Homo sapiens: one gene and its partner. The protein of the gene in region 1 interacts with the protein of each later gene in a pairwise test. Each region holds a gene or a part of one and is shown on either strand. Other genes may lie near its edges. The genes, in order: ATP1A3 and NPFFR1.

What was found.
Region 2: the proteins of ATP1A3 (region 1) and NPFFR1 interact in binary tests that used the Homo sapiens proteins (3 or more experiments, as listed by UniProt).

Annotation. Positions count from the first base shown.
Region 1 is NC_000019.10:41,989,262-41,998,803, reverse strand, and holds the start of ATP1A3 (sodium/potassium-transporting ATPase subunit alpha-3), read left to right. Parts: upstream 1-4,573; 5' UTR 4,574-4,727; coding exon 4,728-4,733; intron 4,734-5,336; exon of another isoform or gene 5,337-5,372; coding exon of another isoform or gene 5,373-5,411; intron 5,412-5,577; exon of another isoform or gene 5,578-5,596; intron 5,597-9,542. UniProt on the Homo sapiens protein: This is the catalytic component of the active enzyme, which catalyzes the hydrolysis of ATP coupled with the exchange of sodium and potassium ions across the plasma membrane.
Region 2 is NC_000010.11:70,258,768-70,268,536, forward strand, and holds part of NPFFR1 (neuropeptide FF receptor 1), read right to left. Parts: intron 7,625-9,769; coding exon 7,310-7,624; intron 1,973-7,309; coding exon 1,873-1,972; intron 1-1,872. UniProt on the Homo sapiens protein: Receptor for NPAF (A-18-F-amide) and NPFF (F-8-F-amide) neuropeptides, also known as morphine-modulating peptides. Can also be activated by a variety of naturally occurring or synthetic FMRF-amide like ligands.

The DNA of each region.
Region 1 (9,542 bases):
TCTCCGCTCCCGCAGCGGGCGCGGGACAGGACTTGTGCGCCGGCGCCCCGGACGCCGCGATTTTGCCTTTGGTTCCCCGCGAAGTCCGAGGCCTGGCTCTGGAGCCCGCCTGCGCCCCCCAGTGGACTCGCGAGAGGGTGCCGCGGGCGAGAAGGGCGCAGGAACCGAGGACTCCAGGGGCTGGGGACTTCGGGGGCGGCTCTGGGAAGCGGAAAGCAGTCAGCGGAGAGGACCCCATTCTGGGACTGCTCAGGCTCCCCAAGACTTGACGCAGCCCCCCACGCTTCTGGAGGTGGGGAGGGCCTCTGGACAGATGGGTGTCCCCTGGTGCCCCTCCACTCTTCTCTTCCTCTCTTTTTTGGGGGGAGAAACCTCGGAATTTCTATGAGACCTCCCCCAGGGAGGGGGTCAGTTGGGCCCCCATCCCTCCCCTTGCCACATCGCAGCCCCTGTTGGAATAAAAAAAAGAACAAAACCCCAGAACTGGGGATACCGTCTCTCATTTCCTGGGGGTGTGAGGGCTTTGGAGGCTTGGGTCCCCGGGGCACCTGCTGAGAATCAGAGTGAGCCTCGATGGTTACTTCCATGCTCTCTCCACCCTCAGCCCTGCCTACAGGCTGCAGGCCAGCCCGGGTCCCAGCAGCTGGCCCCTCTCCACTGACCTTCTCTCAGGACAGAGGGAGGCTGCGACAGAGACCCTGAGACAGATGGAGAGATGCAGGGATCTGGAGACGCGGAGACACCGGAAGCGGAGACACAGAAAGACAGAAAACAGATGGGGCTGGGGGAGGGGAGGGCCAGTGAGCTGTTGAGTGTGGCCGTGCCTGGGGTGGCGAGTGTGTGCCTGGGCCGGGGTGATTCAGTGACGTTGTGATCGTGTGTGCACGCATCTGCGAGGCCATCTTCAACTGTCTGTGGCTGTGATCCCGTGTTTCTGTTGAAAATGTACCTCCCCAACCCCCAAGAGAGGAAGTGAGGAATCCCAGTAGACTGGGGGGTGGGTGGGCGGGCAGGGGTGGGAGAGGCTGAAGGGCTGATGGCGCAGGAGAAAGGTGGGTCCGCCTTCTGTCCCCGCCCTCCCTGCCCCGCCGGAGGTTTCTGTGGAAACTGCAGCTGAGGAAGGACGAGTGAAGGTCACACAGCAAGAGCCAAAACGAGGCCGAGCAGAAAGGGAGAGATGGAGGGATGGCGAGAGACAGAGATGGGGAGAGACAACGAAGGGGGCAGAGTGGGCGGGAGGGGGATGGGGAGAGAGAGCTAGAGGACACAGAGCCGGCGAGACAGGGAGAGAGGCTGGGTGAGGTGAGAGAAGACTGGAGAAAGAATAGAGGGCTGAGACCAGAGGTGAAGCGGGAGGGTAAGATACACCCGGAGTTGGGGTGAGAGACAGGAAGCCATAAAAAACTAAATGGAACCTGGAGGGGACTGGAACGGAAAGGAAAGCCTGACTGGAAAGGTCCCAGAGAGAGCGAGGCTGCGCCCGTTCCTGGGCGGCGGCCCGGGGCTTGGGAGCTGTCCGTTCAGCACCCAGTTGGCCAGCCTGAGCCCAGAGCGCCCGACTTCCCTCCAGGGCCCGCCTGCCCAGCGCAGTCCTGGCAGGCCGGCCACACCCTGGGAGACCCCTCCCCGCACACAGCGCCCCCCGTCGCCACCCGTCCCCTTCTGCGTCTCAGACCCTGGTTGCGTGCCCCTCGGACAGGTGTGGGGGCAGGCACCAGCCTCTCTCTGTTGTCTCGCATCTCTATCTCCACGTCTCTTACACACTCCAATCAATGTCTCTGCCCTTGGGTCGGACTCTTTGTCGAGGTGACTAGAACATGATTACAGACATTTCTGGTTTCTCCCCCTTCTCTGTCCCAATGCCTCGAGGCCAATTCCCTCTGGGGTCTCCCCCATTTCTGAGTCCCCGGTCCCCTACCAGGTTTCTGCTCAGTCTCCCCCTGGCCTTTATCTCTGAGTCTCCCTGGTTTACCAAGCCTGTCTCTGCCTGGCTGTCTACGTCTCTCTGTCTCTGTCACCTTCACTGAACTCTTCCGTTGCTCTGTCTCCGTGTTCTCATCTCTGCATCTGCCAATCTCTGTCTGTCTTTTTCAATCTGTTTGTATCCGCCTCTCTCTGGTTCTGGGCTGCCTGTTTCTCCCTCTGTGTCTCTCCTTCCGCCTCTCACATCTAGCTCCCCTATTCCCCTTTATCCCTGTGACCTTCCCAGGTCTTTCCTTCTCACCGCCCCCCCTACTTCTGCAGAGCCTCACCAGGAGCACGATGCACAGTCATCAGTCTCATCAGGCTCGTGCCTGAGGAGAGAGTGCATGAGGGGGGACGTGAGCTTGTGTCTGAGGTGGGATGGGAAGGGCTCAAGGCCTCCCCCGGCCCAGCTGGAGAGCAAGAGCAGACAGAGCCTAGAATCTCCTGGAATCCAGGCCTCCCCCACCTCCCCAGGCTTCCCCATCTCCCCAGTCCCATTCTCCATGGTCCAGGCCCATGCCTCTAGGCCAAGGTGTCAAGAGAAGGAAAGGAGGATATGTTGATAGGCTCTCCCTCCCCTAGGAAGAGGGCAGAGTTGGGGAGGGGGCGTCTGGGGGTGAGGCATCTGGGTTAAAAGATGTGGCTCCTCCCCCTTTCCCAGTCTCCATGGCAACAGCCCAGTCTGCAGGCCCAACCTCCTTTGCTGCAGAAGCAGCTCCCTGTTACCATGGCAACAAAGGACAGCGAGAAAGATGGGGACGGGTCAGAGGACAGGATTGGGATGGGGCTCTGGGCACTGGGGAAAGCCTCCATTCACTCTCTGGCCTTGTCTCTGTCCATATGCTGTGGCTCTGAATCTCTGTGTTTCTGTGCCTCTCTCTGGCCTTCAGCCTTTCACACATTTCCCTGCACCAGGTCCTCGACCTTCACCCACCCACCCTCATACACCAAGCTCACTCCCTGTCCCTTGCCTGCGTCCCCCACATCTCCTATCCCATAGGTGGAGAGGATACCCACATTCTGAGAAAACTACAAGGTCAAATGCTCTCTGTCTCTCTCTCTCTCTCTTCCCCTTCTACCATCCCCAGGGAGAGTCTGGGGTGTTCCTCATAGAACAAAGTGGTGTTGGAGTGAGTGGGGAGGCCTCAACTTCTTGGGCTCCAGTGGGGTGGCTGATGGGGTGTTGTGTGTCGGCAGCAGGCCTGGGGTGTGGGTGCCGGCTGTGCATCTGTGTGTGTACATATACTGTGACGAGCTCTGTGTGTCATGTGGGTGAGGGCGTTGGGGTGTGTTTGGAGGTGCAACAAAGATGTCTGCGATAGTGCTGCAATAACGTGATGTGTGTATGTGTGGGAGGTGTGTGGGTGTCGCGTGACTTGTGTTTGAATTATTGTGCTATGTGTAAGTGTGTGCACCTTTTTGTCTGTCATTCACAGTTAGCATTGGCAACTTTGCACTGTGGGCCGTTGCTCATGCCCAAACACACTGGGGAGCAGTGTGTGTGAGGATGTGTGCGACATCGTGGGATCATGCAACGATGTCCACAAAGGCTGATGTAGTGTGTCTGGAGGCAGTGTGAGGCCTGTGCGTGTGTGATGGTGCTGAGTGCAGGTGTGTGTTGGTTTATGGGTTGCACGATGTGGGTTTCTATGTGAGATGGTGGGAGGTCAGGTGTGGTAGAGTGTGTGATGTGTGAGTCTGCGATTTTCTGAGTGTCGGTGTTAGTCCGCACAGCACTTTGTGGCTGTGATTATGAGTCTCTTGTGGTGTGATGGGTGTGTAAGGTGTGTGCCCTATGTGTGTTTCACTCTATGTTTGAGACTCTGTGTGTGGTGGGGTGGTGTTGTGTGTGTGAGGGTACATGCTGGCCTATGGTGGAATATGAGTGCAACCCTGTGGTGTGTGCGTGTCCCCAGCATCTGGGCTATCAGTGTGATGGTCCTGTGTAACTGTGACGCTGGGCATTTTCTGGGCCTCCTGGGGCCATCCTCCACCGTGTTGTGTCTCCCGTGTACCCTGTGTGGTTGTGGCTCATTGGATAGCTCAGGCGTAGTGGGGGGGCACCCACAGTGAGGGAATCTCAGGGCTCCTCCCGCCAGCACCCCTCCTCAATTGCAAGGCCTTTCTTGCTCTCTTGTGTTCCCTTCCAACTTCCCCTCCTGCAGGGCCCTCTCCCTGAACAGCACTACCCCCCGCCGTCTCCAGGGTCCCTGGTGCCACACTGCAGTGATTCACCGGGCTTCCCTCCCACCCCGTGTCACTACCCGCCCCCCCTCCCCCAGCGTACCCTTCTCGGTGATGGCACACCCCCACAATGAGAGGATTTCCGGGGTTTTCTTTCCCTGAGCGCCCCTTCTTGGAGGCCCTACTCCATATTGAGGGGGTCTCCAAGTCCCCTATTGCGGAGGTCTCTGGGAATCCCCCCACCCCCGCAGCGCTCCCCCTTCGCGGCCGCGCCGCCACTTTGCGGAGCCCAAGGGGAGGACAGCTGCAGTACCAGGGGCGGGGCCGCGGGCCGTCCGTCAGCACGGCGGCGCCCCTGATTGGCCAGCGCCGCCCCCCTCCCGCGGACGCGGGCATATGAGGAGGCGGAGGCGGCGGCCGCCGCAGCCTCTGTGCGGTGGGACCAACGGACGGACGGACGGACGCGCGCACCTACCGAGGCGCGGGCGCTGCAGAGGCTCCCAGCCCAAGCCTGAGCCTGAGCCCGCCCCGAGGTCCCCGCCCCGCCCGCCTGGCTCTCTCGCCGCGGAGCCGCCAAGATGGGGGTAGGTGCTGAGCCGGCTGGGCGCCGCTTCCGTGTGACATTGTGGGGCCGGTGACATTGGGTGTGCGCGGGGGGCGGGGGCACCGGGACCCCTGCGCTCCGGGGCCAGGCCTGCGAGACCCGGGGAGCCGGCTGACCCAGCCAATCCATGTGGTCGTGGGGCCGCAGGGGGCGGCGGGGGGTCTGTGGCGCACGTTGGCATGGCTTTGTGTGCGGAGATCCGCGAGGTTGTGGGCCAGCCCTCAGCATCTCCGCCTGACCTTGTGCGGTTGCATGTGCACAGTTGCATGTGCGTATGAGAGCTGCTGGCTCTGTCAGGCCCTGGCAGCGAGTGTGTGGGCCCCGTGGTGTCTGAAAGTCTGCGATCGCGTCTGGGTGTGTCTGTGAGAGCTCGTGTTAGTGCGTCTGGGGTTATTGAGGCCCCCCTGCTTCCCTGGCAGGGTGCGGATAGGTCCACGTTGTGGGATGGACACCAGATGACCTCTCTTTCTCCTTCCAGGCCTGGATGGGGGGACTCCGCAGTGTGTGTGTGTGTGTGTGTGTGTGTGTGTGTGTGTGTGTGTGTGTGTGCAGGCTCCGCAGTGTCGCAGCCTGGGGCTGCAGTGTGTGTGTGTGCAGCCCCTCATGTAGGGGAGCAGGCATGGGAGGCTGGGAGGAGGAGAGGAACAGGAGAGCCACGGTGGGGAGACTGAGTGCACAGCTGAGGGTGTGCGTGTGCAACTGTGTAGTGGGGAGCGTGCATGCCTGGCTGTGTCCTTGCCTCTGTGTCCGTGTGTCCTTGTCTGTCTGTGAGTCTCTCCAGCAGATGCCGCCTCCCTCCCTGGCTGACCACCTGACCCTTGCTGCAGCCCTGGATTCCTCCCTGTGTGTCTGGGGCGGGGCTGAAGGGAGGGGGAATCAGGAGAGGAGGGGGTGGGTGGGGGTAGGTGGGATGAAGAGGGCGGGAGAGGCCAGTGGAGGGAGAATAGGAGGGCTGGGGAGAAAGATGGCGGATAAAGGCTGATGGGCCCAGGGATGGAGGTGGGGGATGGGGCTGCAGATCTGTGGGGTGGGGCAGGGTGGGCCGGGGGGCTGGGAAGGAGGATTGGGTTGGGGCAGGACTAGGGGAGAGAAGGGAGAAAGGGGTAGTCAGTGATGGCTGTCAGGTAAGTGGGATGGAGGGAGGGAAGCTGTGGATGGATTGGGAGAAGACTGATGCTAAAAGCCCTAGAGAAGGAAGTTAGAGGGAGGTGGTCTTAGGAAACGGAGTGGGGACGAGAGGAGAAATGAAGGCAGCTTAGACATGGGAAGGAAAGACAGAGACACATGGAAAGACAGAGATGCTCTGAAAGAGACAGAGAAAGAGACATGGACATAGAGACAAAGAGACAGAGACAAGCAGAGAGACATGGCTGAGACACATGGAGAGACATTGAGAGAGAAAATGAGAAACTGAGGCTCAGAGGAAGAGACACAAGGACAGATATTTCCTATCTAGCGGCAACCACAGTCAGCCTGAGGGACAGGAAGAGGAGGCAGAGGGCAAAGGGGGAGGTCAAGGGAGGGATGGTCAGAGATGTGGGCCAGGTCCCCTGCGAGGGGGAAGGGAGGCCGGCCCAGGCGCAGAGGCTGCGGGAGCTGGCACCAGATCAGGGAGAGGCGGACAGCATGGAAAATGGCAAGGAGCTGCAGAGGCGGCCACAGCGAGACAGGCATGGTCCCCACCCTTGGAGGTGCTCCCACCCCGCAGCGCGCCCATCTGGGCCTCCTGCCTTGACTGGGAAAGCCTCAGCTGTGCACTCCAACAGATGGGAGCCTGCTCCCCAAGGGGGTCTGGCTGTGTCAAGGGCAAGCAGGAGCCAAGGCCAGGGCCAGGGTGAGCCAGGAGTCCCAGGGTCCCGGTCCCTCCTCCCTCAGACCAGGAGTCCAGGCCCCAGCCCCTCCTCCCTCAGATCCAGGAGTCCAGGCCCCAGCCCCTCTTCCCTCAGACCAGGAGTCCAGGCCCCAGCCCCTCCTCCCTCAGACCAGGAGTCCAGGCCCCAGCCCCTCCTCCCTCAGATCCAGGAGTCCAGGCCCCAGCCCCTCCTCCCTCAGATCCAGGAGTCCAGGCCCCAGCCCCTCTTCCCTCAGACCAGGAATCCAGGCCCCAGCCCCTCCTCCCTCAGACCCAGGGGTCCAGGCCCAGCCCCTCCTCCCTCAGACCCAAGGGTCCAGCCCCAGCCCCTCCTCCCTCAGACCCAGGAGTCCAGGCCCTGGCCCCTCCTCCCTCAGACCCAGGATTCCAGGCTCCCAGTCCTTCCTCCCTCAGACCCAGGGGTCCAGACCCCTGCCCCTCCTCCCTCAGACCCAGGGATCCAGGACCCCAGCCTCTCTCAGTATCTGAGAGTCCGGCCCAGCCCTTAGCATTTATGGGGCCCCGAGCATCAGCTCCCAGCCTTCAACTAAGGTTTCTGGGTGGGCAGCTGATTTTCTCCCTCTCTCTCTCCTGACCCCCATCTCACCCCTCTCCTGGCCTCCTGCACAGGACTTGACCCCAGGCCTTTGTAGCTCCACATCTCTCCATCTCTCCATGTCTCTCCATCCTGGGTCTACCCCATCGGGCAAAGCTGAGACCACCCCGGCACTGTAGGGCAGTAGGAAAGATGGTCTCCCCGTCCCCCAAGCCTCTGTGCCTCCGCATCTGAGACGCAGTGCTGCTGCAGGGCTGGCGTGGGGCCAAGCCTCCCTCCCACCCCCTGCACCCCTTCTTGAGGCTCCCAGATCTCCAGGCTGCTGCCCCTCCCTGCACACCCCCACCCTCCGACTCAGCCTCTGGGTCTGGGGGCAGACAGCAGGCAGCTCAGGCCCTCTACAAGGTCACGAGGAGATTAGCGCTGAGCCGCGCTGAGCCTCCGATCCCAGCTTGGCCCTGGGCCTGCGGGACCTGTCAGCGGCCCCTGCAGCACCCAGCCTCGCCCCACCCCTCCCACCAGCCTCGGACACTGCCCTCCCCATCCGCCCAGGCTCCCAAACTGGAACTTCAGGGACTCACACCATGCGCAGTTCAAGCCAGGACTAGGGCTTCTGCCTCTAACTCTCCTGCTCTGTCCTCCAGGAACCTGGCCATGCCCAGCCTCTGTTAAGGACGCTCCATGGGCCCAACACATGGAAGATCCCAGAGAGAGGCAGAGACAGAGATAGAGGAAGGTACCAGAGGGAGACAGTGAGAGAGACAGAGACAGAGAGACATAGACAGAGATAGAGAGGCAGATTCCAGAGACAGAGAGAGGAGATCTCAGAGAGACAGAAATAGAGAATAAGATCCCAGAGAGAAAGTGAGAGAAAGAGACAGAGAGAGAGAGGAAGATCCCAGAGACAGACAGCGAAAGAGAGAGGAAGATCCTACAAAAAGAGACAGATATATATATATATATATATGGACAGAGAGAGAGAGAAAGAGAGAGAGAGATTGAGGAGAGCCCAGAGAGAGACAGTGGGAGAAAGAGAGACAGAGAGGAAAATTCCAGGATGAGGTAGTAAGAGAGAGAAAGAGAATGAGAGATATATGGGGAAGGAGGGGGACGGAAGATTTGAGAGAGACAGAGAGAGGGAGAGAGAGAAAGAGAATGAGAGATATATGGGGAAGGAGGGGGACGGAAGATTTGAGAGAGACAGAGAGAGGGAGAGAGAGAAAGAGAATGAGAGATATATGGGGAAGGAGGGGGACGGAAGATTTGAGAGAGACAGAGAGAGGGAGAGAGAGAGAGAGAAAGAGAAAGAGAGGAGATCTTAGTGATAGTGAGAGAGAAAGAGAGATTCAGAGATAGAGAGGAGATCCCAGAGAGAGAGAGTGGGAGAGAGACAGAGATAGGCAGATCCCAGAGAGAGATATTAGAGAGACAGAGAGAGAGACAGAGAGAGGTTGAAACAGGAAAAGAGACAGGTAGGGAGAGATGTGAGCATCCCAGAGGAGACAGCTTGAGAGATGAAGATAGAGACACAATGACAGAGAGAGACAGACCGAAAGACGGAAAAAGACAGAGACAGAAAGTACTGATCCTTGAGACGCCAACTCAGAGGGAAATAAGAACCCAGAGAGACAGAAACTCAGCCAGACCTGGGGAGACACAGCCAAGAGATGGAGACAGACATCATGCAAGGCAGAGAGACAAAGAACCAGAGATCAGAGAGAGACAAAATCATAGAAAGACACATGCAGAGAGACCCAGAGACTGGGATCAGGATAGAGAATGACAGAGACAACATAAAGAGATCAGAGCGATAGAGAGAGAGAGAGAGCTATCAAGAGAGAGAAACAGCCTTGCAAAGACAGAGATACAGAGATGGAGAGATAAAGAGACAGGAGACAGAGAGATGATGAAACAAAGCAATAAGACCAAGAGCCAAAAACAGACCTGGAGATACACATCAAGGGAGACAGACAGAGGAGAAAGAGATGGAGATACACGTGGAGACATAGAAAAGACAGATACGAGGCCGGGCACGGTGGCTCACGCCTGTAATCCCAGCACTTTGGGAGGCCGAGACGGGCGGATCACGAGGTCAGGAGATTGCGACCATCCTGGCTAACACAGTGAAACCCTGTCTCTACTAAAAATACAAAAAAATGAGCCGGGCGTAGTGGCGGGCGCCTGTAGTCCCAGCTACTCGGGAGGCTGAGGCAGGAGAATGGCGTGAACCTGGGAGGCGGAGCTTGCAGTGAGCTGAGATCATGCCACTGCACTCCAGCCTAGGCGACTAAGCGAGACTCCGTCTCAAAAAAAAAAAAAAAAAAAAGACAGATATGTAGGAAGGTTGGACAGGGCCAGGGAGAGGGAAGAAGAGACAGAAG
Region 2 (9,769 bases), on another chromosome or scaffold:
CCCAGTGGGGGTCTTATGGTCACATGGCTGTTTGGAGTCAGAGCCTGCCCTGGAACATAGGTCTAGAGCTGACTCTCAGTCAAGTGTCCTTTCCACTTCGCTACACTGTGTCCTGCCCTCCTGCCAACCCAGTTTTTGGCCTGATAGCCTGACCTTTTACCTCTCCCACAGCCTGACTCAGGCCTTGTTATCTCAACCTATATGACTTTGACCTACTGGCTTCATACTTCACATACTCAAGAAAGCTCCAGAGAATAGTGGCTTATGTCAGCACTTTGGGAGGCTGAGGAGGGTGGATCACTTGAGGACAGGAGTTCGAGACCAGCCTGGCCAACATGGTGAAACCCTTCTCTACTAAAAAGACAAAAATTAGCCATGCATGGTGGTGCGCACCTGCAATCCCAGCTACTCCGGGGACTGAGGCACGAGAATGGCTTGAACCCGGGAGGCAGAGGTTGCAGTCAGCCAAGATCGCCATGGCACTCCAGCCTGGGTGACAGAGCAAGACTCTGTCTCCCCCCTCAAAAAAAAAAAAGAAAGAAAGAAAGAAAAAGAAATCTCCAGAGAATAAATAATTCTTAAAGCCTGTAGTGCTGGCTATGAATGCAATAGCAGTAAATGGGTGGAGGAGAATCTTGGGGTAATCTGGGCAGGCTTCCTGGATGAGGTGGGACTTGAAGAATACTGCAAACACCACTGGGAGAAGTTGTACACTCTCATTTCCTTCAACAATGATAACAAAACAAAGGTCGATGAAGGGAAGGGACTTCTCCTGATCACCCAGCTAGTTAGTGGCCTTGTGGAGAGTAGAACCCACTTCATTACTCCAGCTGCCTACTTCACTGAGTTACAAAAAACTGGGCTTGAGGTGGAGAGAGGATGTGAACACTAGATTCCACAAAGGGCAGGGTTAAGATATGCCTGTGCTGGGGAGAGAACAAGGAGGAGGGGATGGGTGTGCAGAAGAAACAACATACTATTAGCAACTGATATTTGGACTCTATGCCAAGAACTGTGCATAAGCTTTTACAAGCAGGAGCTCACTGAAGCCTCCCAACCATCCTGTAGGGTAGCTACCATTTTACAGATGAGACTACAAGGGCTCAGAGTAGTTAGGTGACCCACCCAACATGATACACCAAGGCAGGAGTGAGCAAATCTCCAGCTGATCTGCCTGCCCACCTTTCCCTGGGGTGAAGCACCCAGAGGGTGCCCTTCCCCTGCTAACAATGCTGTGGGGGAGGAGCACTCATGTAGTGCAATATGGAGGCCTCCTGGGTTCAGTGCTTTATTGATTGCAAGCCTCCTTCTCCCTGGCTCTGCTCCATACCTTTGGCCACATGATAGATTTATACTTACCAGGGAATCTGATGGAATATGAGGCTGAGAGACGAGAAGCGGTGAACGTGGGGATTGAGTACAGCCTGGGCTGCCGGGAACCAGCAAGGAGCCAGTGGGGACAGAATAAGGAGCAGGGAGAAACCCTTCCTCCCCAGCCATACCGTGACCCACCCATAAGCTGGCCCCCTTAGCTCTGGCTCACCTGGCTCAGACTTAGAGGTGGCAGGATTCCTGCTGCTCAGGAAATAAGGACTGCTCTTGAGCTCCTCACAGGCCCCAGGAATCCCAACAAAAGCCAACCAAGGCTACCTTCAGGCCTTCCAGAAGGGGGTGGTAGTGTCCTCATCAGGTTCCCCAAGTTTAGGGAGAGGGCAGCTGGGCCCAGGGCCCTTCTCCTTGTGGCTCAGGATTTAGCCCCACTTACCATGGTGCAGCCCCAGCCTTCCAGCCAACCCAGCATTAGAGGCAGTGGCTCCTCTTAATGCCAGGCCCTAGTTGGCTCAGGCATAATCCAGCCAGGAAACCTCTCACCTTTCCACAGCAATGGCCACCAGTGTGAAAACGGAAGCCGACACAGACATGCCCTGCACCAAGCCGCTCATCTTGCATGTGGCATTGTCGAAGGGCCACCCTGCAATGACAGAGGCCCCCACAGAGTGAGAGATGCCCACGCATCAAGAGCCAGAGACTGAAAGCCCTCCAAGCCAGGTCCCCTCTGAGCTTGGATCTTTCCTCCATGACCTGCTAGGTGTTATCTGGTCTCTGCTTGCAGACTTTCAGAAATGAGGAACCAACCAGCCCATAAAACCATGGACAGTTCTCACTACAGTCATCCCCTCGTTTATACAGTGCATTGGTTCTAGGACCCCCAAGTATTCCAAAATCCACACATAATCAAGTCCTGCAGTCAGCCTTGCAGAACCTGTGTATAGAAAAAGGCAGCCCTCTGTATGTACATGGTGATATGGTTTGGCTGTATCCCCACCCAAATCTCATCTTGAATTGTAGCTCCCATAATCCCCACGAGTCATGGGAAGGACCCATGGGAGGTAACTGAATCGTGGGAGTGGTTTCCTCCATGCTATTCTTGTGATGGTGAGTAAGTTCTCATCACGAGATCTGATGGTTTTATATGGGGCTTCTCCCTTCACTCCGTTCTCATTCTTCTCTCTCCTGCTGACTTGTGAAGAAGGATGTGCTTCCCCTTCCACCATGATTGTAAGTTTCCTGAGGCCTTCCCATCCCTGCAGAACTGTGAGTCAAACCTCTTTCCTCTATAAATTACCCAGTCTCAAGTATGTCCTTATAGCAGCATGAGAATGGCCTAATATACACGGGTTTTGCTGTATTTTTAATCTGCATTTAGTTGAAAAAAACCCTCATATAAATGGACCCATGCAGTTCAAACCCATGTTGTTCAAGGGTCAACAGTATTAGTGAGATTTTCTTTATGTTGACCAGTGATTTCTTTCCATGAGCTTTAGACCGTCCAGCCCTGCCTGGCTCTCTGCTCCCATAGCCCTGTCTTGGGTTCTAGGCCAGTGGTTCTCGACACTGGCTGCTCACGAGAATCATCTGGAGAGCTTTGCAAAGAACAAATGCTCAGACCCATGCCAGGCCAGTTACAATCAGAATCTCTAGTGACAGGACCCAGACATCAGTTGTTTTGTTTGTTTTGTTTTGTTTTGTTTGAGATAGGGTCTCGCTCTGTCACTGAGGCTGGAGTACAATGGTGTGATCATGGCTCACTGCAGCCTCAACTTCCTGGCTCAAACCATTCTCCTGCCTCAGCCTCCTGAGCAGCTGGAACCACAGGCATGTGGTTTGCAAAAAGCAAAGTATAAAGACTATCTGTACTATATTACCCTTCATGTGAGAAAAAAGAGATTAAGAAAATATATGGTTATTTTCTCATTGTACCAAAGAAATACAGAAAAGATAAATCAGAATAATGAGATTAGCTATCCATACAGAGAGAAGATAAGAACTGGGTAGAAATAATGGATGAATGGGATAGGTGAGATAATGAGAGTGATGCCTCTCTGAGTATATCTTTGTATGGTTCTGACTTTTTAGAATCATGGCAATGAATCACTTACTCAAGATAAATAATTAACATCTATCAGGATATGGTTGGGGAGGGGGGACCCAAAGTAAAATACAAACATTAACAAATAAGTCTAATTATATTACAAATGAATAATATTGTATTTAAATTGAATAATATTTACACTGAAGGGGTGAAGAAGGAACACACGAACTGGAGTAACTTTGCAAAACAGTATTTTGACTGTATACTATAACAGCAAAAAGAACTGTATACAAATTCTGTACTGTCATTACTAAACTTGTATATTCTTGACAAAACTGAATAAACTGGATTTAATTATGGGAAAATATCAGGCAAACCCAAATCACAGAAGTATGTTAGCAATAATGAAACTACCTTATGTGTATACTAAGATTGAACAAATAAGTAAATATGTTGTAGATAAATACAGCTAGATTTCTCACTGTCTGAAAATGAAGTTACCATTAAGGAAGAGGGTCAAGTTAAAATGAATCTGTGACAGTGGGTTAGAATCAGAGGTATCAGTCTGAACTCATGTTAATACACATACAGATGGACAGATATAGAAATAAAGATATGTGTGTTAAATATTTCTGTTAGTATACGTATATTTCCTAGCTCTGTCCCTTGAGAGCACCTAGAAGAAATGACACCCCAATACCCATGAGCACACCTAGAACCCAGATCTTGGCTTCTAAATACTATTCTCAGCCAGGTGTAGTAATCCCAGCACTTTGGGAGGAAGAAGCAGGAGGATCGCTTGAGCCCAGGAATTCAAGACCAGCCTGGGTAATATAGTGAGACTCTGACTCTACAAAAACAAAAATTAAAAATAAAATTAGCCATACATGGTGGCGCATTTCTGTAGTCCCAGCTACTGGGGAGGCTGAGGTGGGAAGATCTCTTGAGGCCAGGAGTTTGAGGTCACAGTGAGCTATGATCTCACCACCGCACTCCAGCCTTGGTGACAGAGCAAGACCGTGTCTTTTTAAAAAGCAACAACAACAACAACAAAAAAGCCCCTGTGGAACTATACACTTAAAAAGGCAGATTTTAATGTATGTTAAATTATATATTAACAAAAATATTTAAATGTAAAACATGCACACATTCACAGCATATTTTCTTTTTTCACCCAGGCTGGAGTGCAGTGGCGTGATCTCGCTCATTGCAAGCTCTGCCTCCTGGGTTCACGCCATTCTCCTGCCTCACCCTCCCGAGTAGCTGGGACTACAGGCACCCACGACCACGCCCGGCTAATTTTTTGTATTTTTTAGTAGAGATGGGGTTTCACCATTTTAGCCAGGATGGTCTCGATCTCCTGACCTTGTCATCCACCCGCCTTGGCCTCCCAAAGTGCTGGGATTACAGGCATGAGCCACCGCGCCCGGCCATTCACAGCACATTTTCTGAGAATGCATACAAAAGACAGAAATATAACAGAATGGCTGCCTATGGGTCAGAGAAGAGATGTAGAGTGGAATAGGTATATAGAAGGAAACAAATAAACAAAAGAAGAGCTTTGCAACAGAGTGAAATCACATAGTGCCATGAACTGTAAACTGAATGAATGATTCAACCTTCTGTATGTGAGTTAAAAAAAAAACAAAACCAACACAAAACAAAACAAAAAGAAAGAAAGGAAGAAAAAGCTGGGCATGGTGCCTCACTCCTGTAATCCCAGCACTTTGGGAGGCTGAGGCGGGCAGATGGCTTGAACCCAGGAGTTTGAGACAAGCCTGGGTAACATGACAAAACTCCATCTCTACAAAAAATAGAAAAATTAGCCATTGGTGGTGGCACATGCCTGTAGTCCCAGGACCTGGGCCCAGGCAGGTTGAGACTGCAGTAAGCCATGATCGTGCACTGCGCTCCAGCCTGGATGACAGAGTGAGACTGTCTCAAAAAAAAGAGGCCGGTGTGGTGGTTCATGCCTGTAATCCCAGCACTTTGGGAGGCCGAGGCAGGCAGGTCACTTGAGATCAAGAGTTCAAAACCAGACTGGCTAACATGGTGAAACCCCATCTCTACTAAAAATACAAAAATTAGCTGGGTGTGGTGGCAGAAGCCTGTAATCCTAGCCACTCGGGAGGCTGAGGCAGGAGAATCACTTCAACCTGGGAGGCGGAGGTTGCAGTGAGCCGAGATCCCAGCACTGCATTCCAGCCCGGGTGACAGTGAGACTCCAAAAAAAAAAAAAAAAAAAAAAAAGAAAGAAAAAATAGTGAAGCTGTGTGAAGTTTTATTTAATTGCAGAAGATTCTATTAGAAACAACATAAATACAAATCAAAATAAATTGTAGTACATCCATACAATGGAATTCTAAGCAGTTGGTGAAAATAGTGAGAAACTCTTTTATTTATTAATATGGGATAACAACATGTAAGTTTATTTTAATGAATCTTTTTTACAGCATACATGGTATATTTTTAAGTGGGGTGTGGTGGGAAGTAAAAGTACGGGACTGGCTGTTTGGAACCTTAGCATGTCCTCAATTTGCTTGCACTCGCATAAAATAGTGTTTGAAAGAGACACAAGAAACTGGCAACACTGGTTGCCTCCCAGGAGGGAGAAGAGCTGGGAGGCCAGAGGACAGGGGCGGAAGGGAGATTTTTCACTGGAGAATTTTGGTAGTTTTTGACTATTGAATCATCTGAATGTTTTATGTATTCAAACAATATTTTAAATATGAGTGTATGAAAAAGATGGGGAGACGCCACCTTAACCAGCTAGTGACCTCATTATATCACTGTTGACTGGTATGCATGTATTTATGTGTATGCATGTGTGCATCTCTGCACATGTGTGCCTGAGTACACGTGTGTGTGTCTATGTGTTGGAAAGGAGAGGAATGCAGTTTATGTTCAGCATTGGCAAAGGAAGCTGGGACTCAGCAGTGGGTAACGGTTCCACCAGACAGAGCTGGTACTGTGGAGGGGAGCTGACTCTGCACTGGCTCCACATCCTGGGTCCTAGAACCTACAGAAACGTGGGCTGTGGCTCCCTCTGCCCCGAGTCAGTGAAGTCACTCTGAATAGGGCTGTCCAGGCTCTGGATCCTGAGGACCAGTGAGCTGCTGGGAGCTCTGAGCTCAGAATCTGCAGGCTCAGACCTCTAGGGGTCTCCATATCTCTGAAAACCAGTCCCTCACCTGGAGTCTCAGGTTGGTGGAAACTTGATTCTAAAACAAGAAAGGCCAGTCGCATGAGAGAGTAGAGAGTAGATGGCACTGTTCTGACATCTGCAGGATGCACCGGCAGGAATTTAGAGGTCAAGTGGTCCACTGAGTGGCCGGCCAGTCCCTGCTTAGACACTCCAAGGGACAGAGAGCTCATTACTTACAGGCAGGACTCTCTTCTGTGCCCTGCTCAATTTCCAGCTCAAATGAGTGGAGTTTTCGTTCCCGATTCAGAGGAAACCTGCCTCCCTTCCACTTCTCCCCACTGGCTCTAATTCTGCCCATGCGAGCTCCGTGAGAGAGTGGGACTGAATGGTATAATACAATAATTAGAAGTATGGGTGTGAGAATGTTGACCTTGACACCTATTAGCTGTGTAACTACAGACCAGTTTCTTAACCACTCCGAGCATGTTTCCTCTTCCATAAAATGGGGAGGACCATAAACTCTACTTCACTGGATTGTTGTGAGGATGAATTAAGATAATGCATGAGAAGTAACATCATGCCAGGCACAAAGAAAACAGGAAATTCATTAAATCTCTTATTTCTAGTCTAACTCTTCAGCCCCAAGACTGTCTTGAGAGTTCGAGACCACGGCATGGCCAAGAGGCCAGCCCAGCAATGATATCTGTCTTCTAAGCTTTGATTTCCAGCCTTATCTGAGAAGTTGAAGTGGGGGGTAGGGGACACTCCTGCTGCCAACTGCCCGCACTCACCAGTGATGAGGTTGTCCACAAGGGTGGTGGGCATGCAGAAGATGCCCACCAGCAGGTCACTGACAGCCAGGTTGAGGATGAACATGTTGGTGACAGTATGCATGTGCCGGTTCTTGAGCACGATGAAACAGACCAGGGTGTTGCCCACCATGCAGAGCAGGAAGATGAGCGCATAGGCCACAATGAACATGGCCGCCACAGGGGAGGTGTGCTGATAGTAGGAGGAGAAGGTGAGGTTTGTAGCCGGGGTGGCCTCAGTGTTAGTCCCATTCTGACTTAGGGGCCAACTGCTGTTGGGAGGCTGGGAGGGCTCCCCTAGGACCAAAGGAATATATTGGTCAGGACCTTAGGCAAAGAAGAGATTACCGATTTCTCACCACTAATGAGACCCTCTGTGTGCCAAACCTTAACCATGCCCTGGTCCCCCAAGCATGTCCCCAGCTCCAGTTGCAACTTGATGCACTGATCCAAGACTTTCAGCCTACAACCACTCAAACCCTGGTCTTGTACTTCATGCCCTGTCTTGCCCATAACTCATTCTCCAATGTTGGTTTTTCTTTATTAACTCCCCCATCCCATTTAGGTTCCAACTTTCTTGGCCCTCCTGTGTGCCCCAGAGGCTAACCTCTAAGTTCTGCATTGCCCTGGTTCCCTTGTCTTCTGGCTTCTAGCTGGGTTCAGCCAATGCCAGGCCCTGAAGGAGATGGGAGGGCAGGAGCAGAGAGAGAGGTCAGGGTGTTTGTCTTCTGATTCCCTTCCTGCCTGGCCCAATTCTTTCAGCAGCTGTTTTTCCCTATAGCCACAGCCTGCTCCTATTGGGTGAGTCCCCTTTCATGGCTCTAGCCCTCACCTGACTACAGTAACACTCTTCCCTCTCCTTGCACTCAATGGTAACAGCTTCCTGTGGTTGTGAGTCCCTGGGTGCTTCACCGTTTCTGGCTGGTTCTCTTAACCCTCTCTTCTTCCATTAAACTCTGTTCAGTTAAACCCTTTCTGAGTGCACCATTTGTTTTCTGCTGGGACCCAATTATTATACCCTCAAACTCTTTGATGTCGTTCCCCTTCATCTCCTCCATGGAACTTTAGTTGAGAAAGGCAAGAAGGCAGTAGAGAAAGGGAGAATGAAGGGGAACTGTGAACCAGGGCTAAGGAGAAGAGGCACATCACATTCAGCAGAACATCCAAAGCAGGGGCTCCTGCTCAACCTTTGCCTCCTCCCATCCCATGATCAGCTGTTCTGCCTGCATAGCATTTAACATAACACTTCCACATCTATTATTTTATTTAGCTCTCCGAGCCATCCCATGATGTAAGTCATTAGGTATTAGCCTCATTTGTTTTCTTTTGTATTTTTTTTAAACCCTCATTGAATTACCCTAAGGTGTTAGCTTCATTTGAAATGGAGGTCAGAAAGGTTCCATGACTTGCTCAAGGTCCTCCAATGATGCTGCAGCACAGCTGGCCCTGCTCTGTGTGTCTGTGAATTAGGACCAGGCTTTGGTGTGTGTTTCCCCAGGCTTGCTTCGAAGGGAAGGCTCAGTGTCCAACCACAGCTCTTCTGGGAAGTCATTAGTTGGGGTGACTCATGATGTTGTGTCATAAACTTTCCTCCTGAGGCCTATTCCAGGGGATGAAGAGTCCCTGTGGAATCTTTCTGTCACACCGAGAACTCAGCCACTGGCCTGGAGGCTCAATGGAGGCTGGGGGCCTGGAGGTTAGAGACCCTCAGAGGAGCAGGGCCAGCGAGCTGGCATCATCAGGGCTGCAGGGACCAGCAGGGGGCACTGCGGTGAGTGTTGGGATGGGGCAGAGGGACTGCGGCGGGAGGCGGACAACCTGCAAACTTCCTGTGCCCGATGAGAGATGATACTCCCAGGTTTAGGCCTTCCAAGGACTTCCAACTGTACTCAAACATCTTTATTTTAATATGGTAAATGTCAAACATGTAGAAGAGAGAATATTGTAATAAACATATACAAGAGTATAAAGTTTAATGAGCTGTTATTAGAGGGATCATATAAAGAACCCCCATGTATACATCATCTGCTTTCAACAGTTATCAACTCGAGGCCTGGAGTTGTTTCATCCATATCCCCACTTCTCTTTGGATTATTTTGAAGTAAATACCAGACATTACTTCCTTTCATCCATAAATGTTTCAGTTTGTACCTTTAAAAAATAAGGACTCAAAAAAACAACATGAAAAAATGTGGTTTCCATCATTATCAAACCTAACAAAATTAACAATTATGTAATTATATCATTAAATAGCCAGCATCCAGCAAAATTTCCTGATTGTTTCATAATTTTTTAAATAGTTGGTTTGTTTGAGTGTGGATCGGAGCAAGATTTCTGTTTCTATTACCTATTATTATGTTGTGAACCACCCCAAAATTTAATGGTACAGCACTGTGGCTTGGCAATCTGAGTAGTTCTTCTCCTGGTCTCTCTTGGGACTCT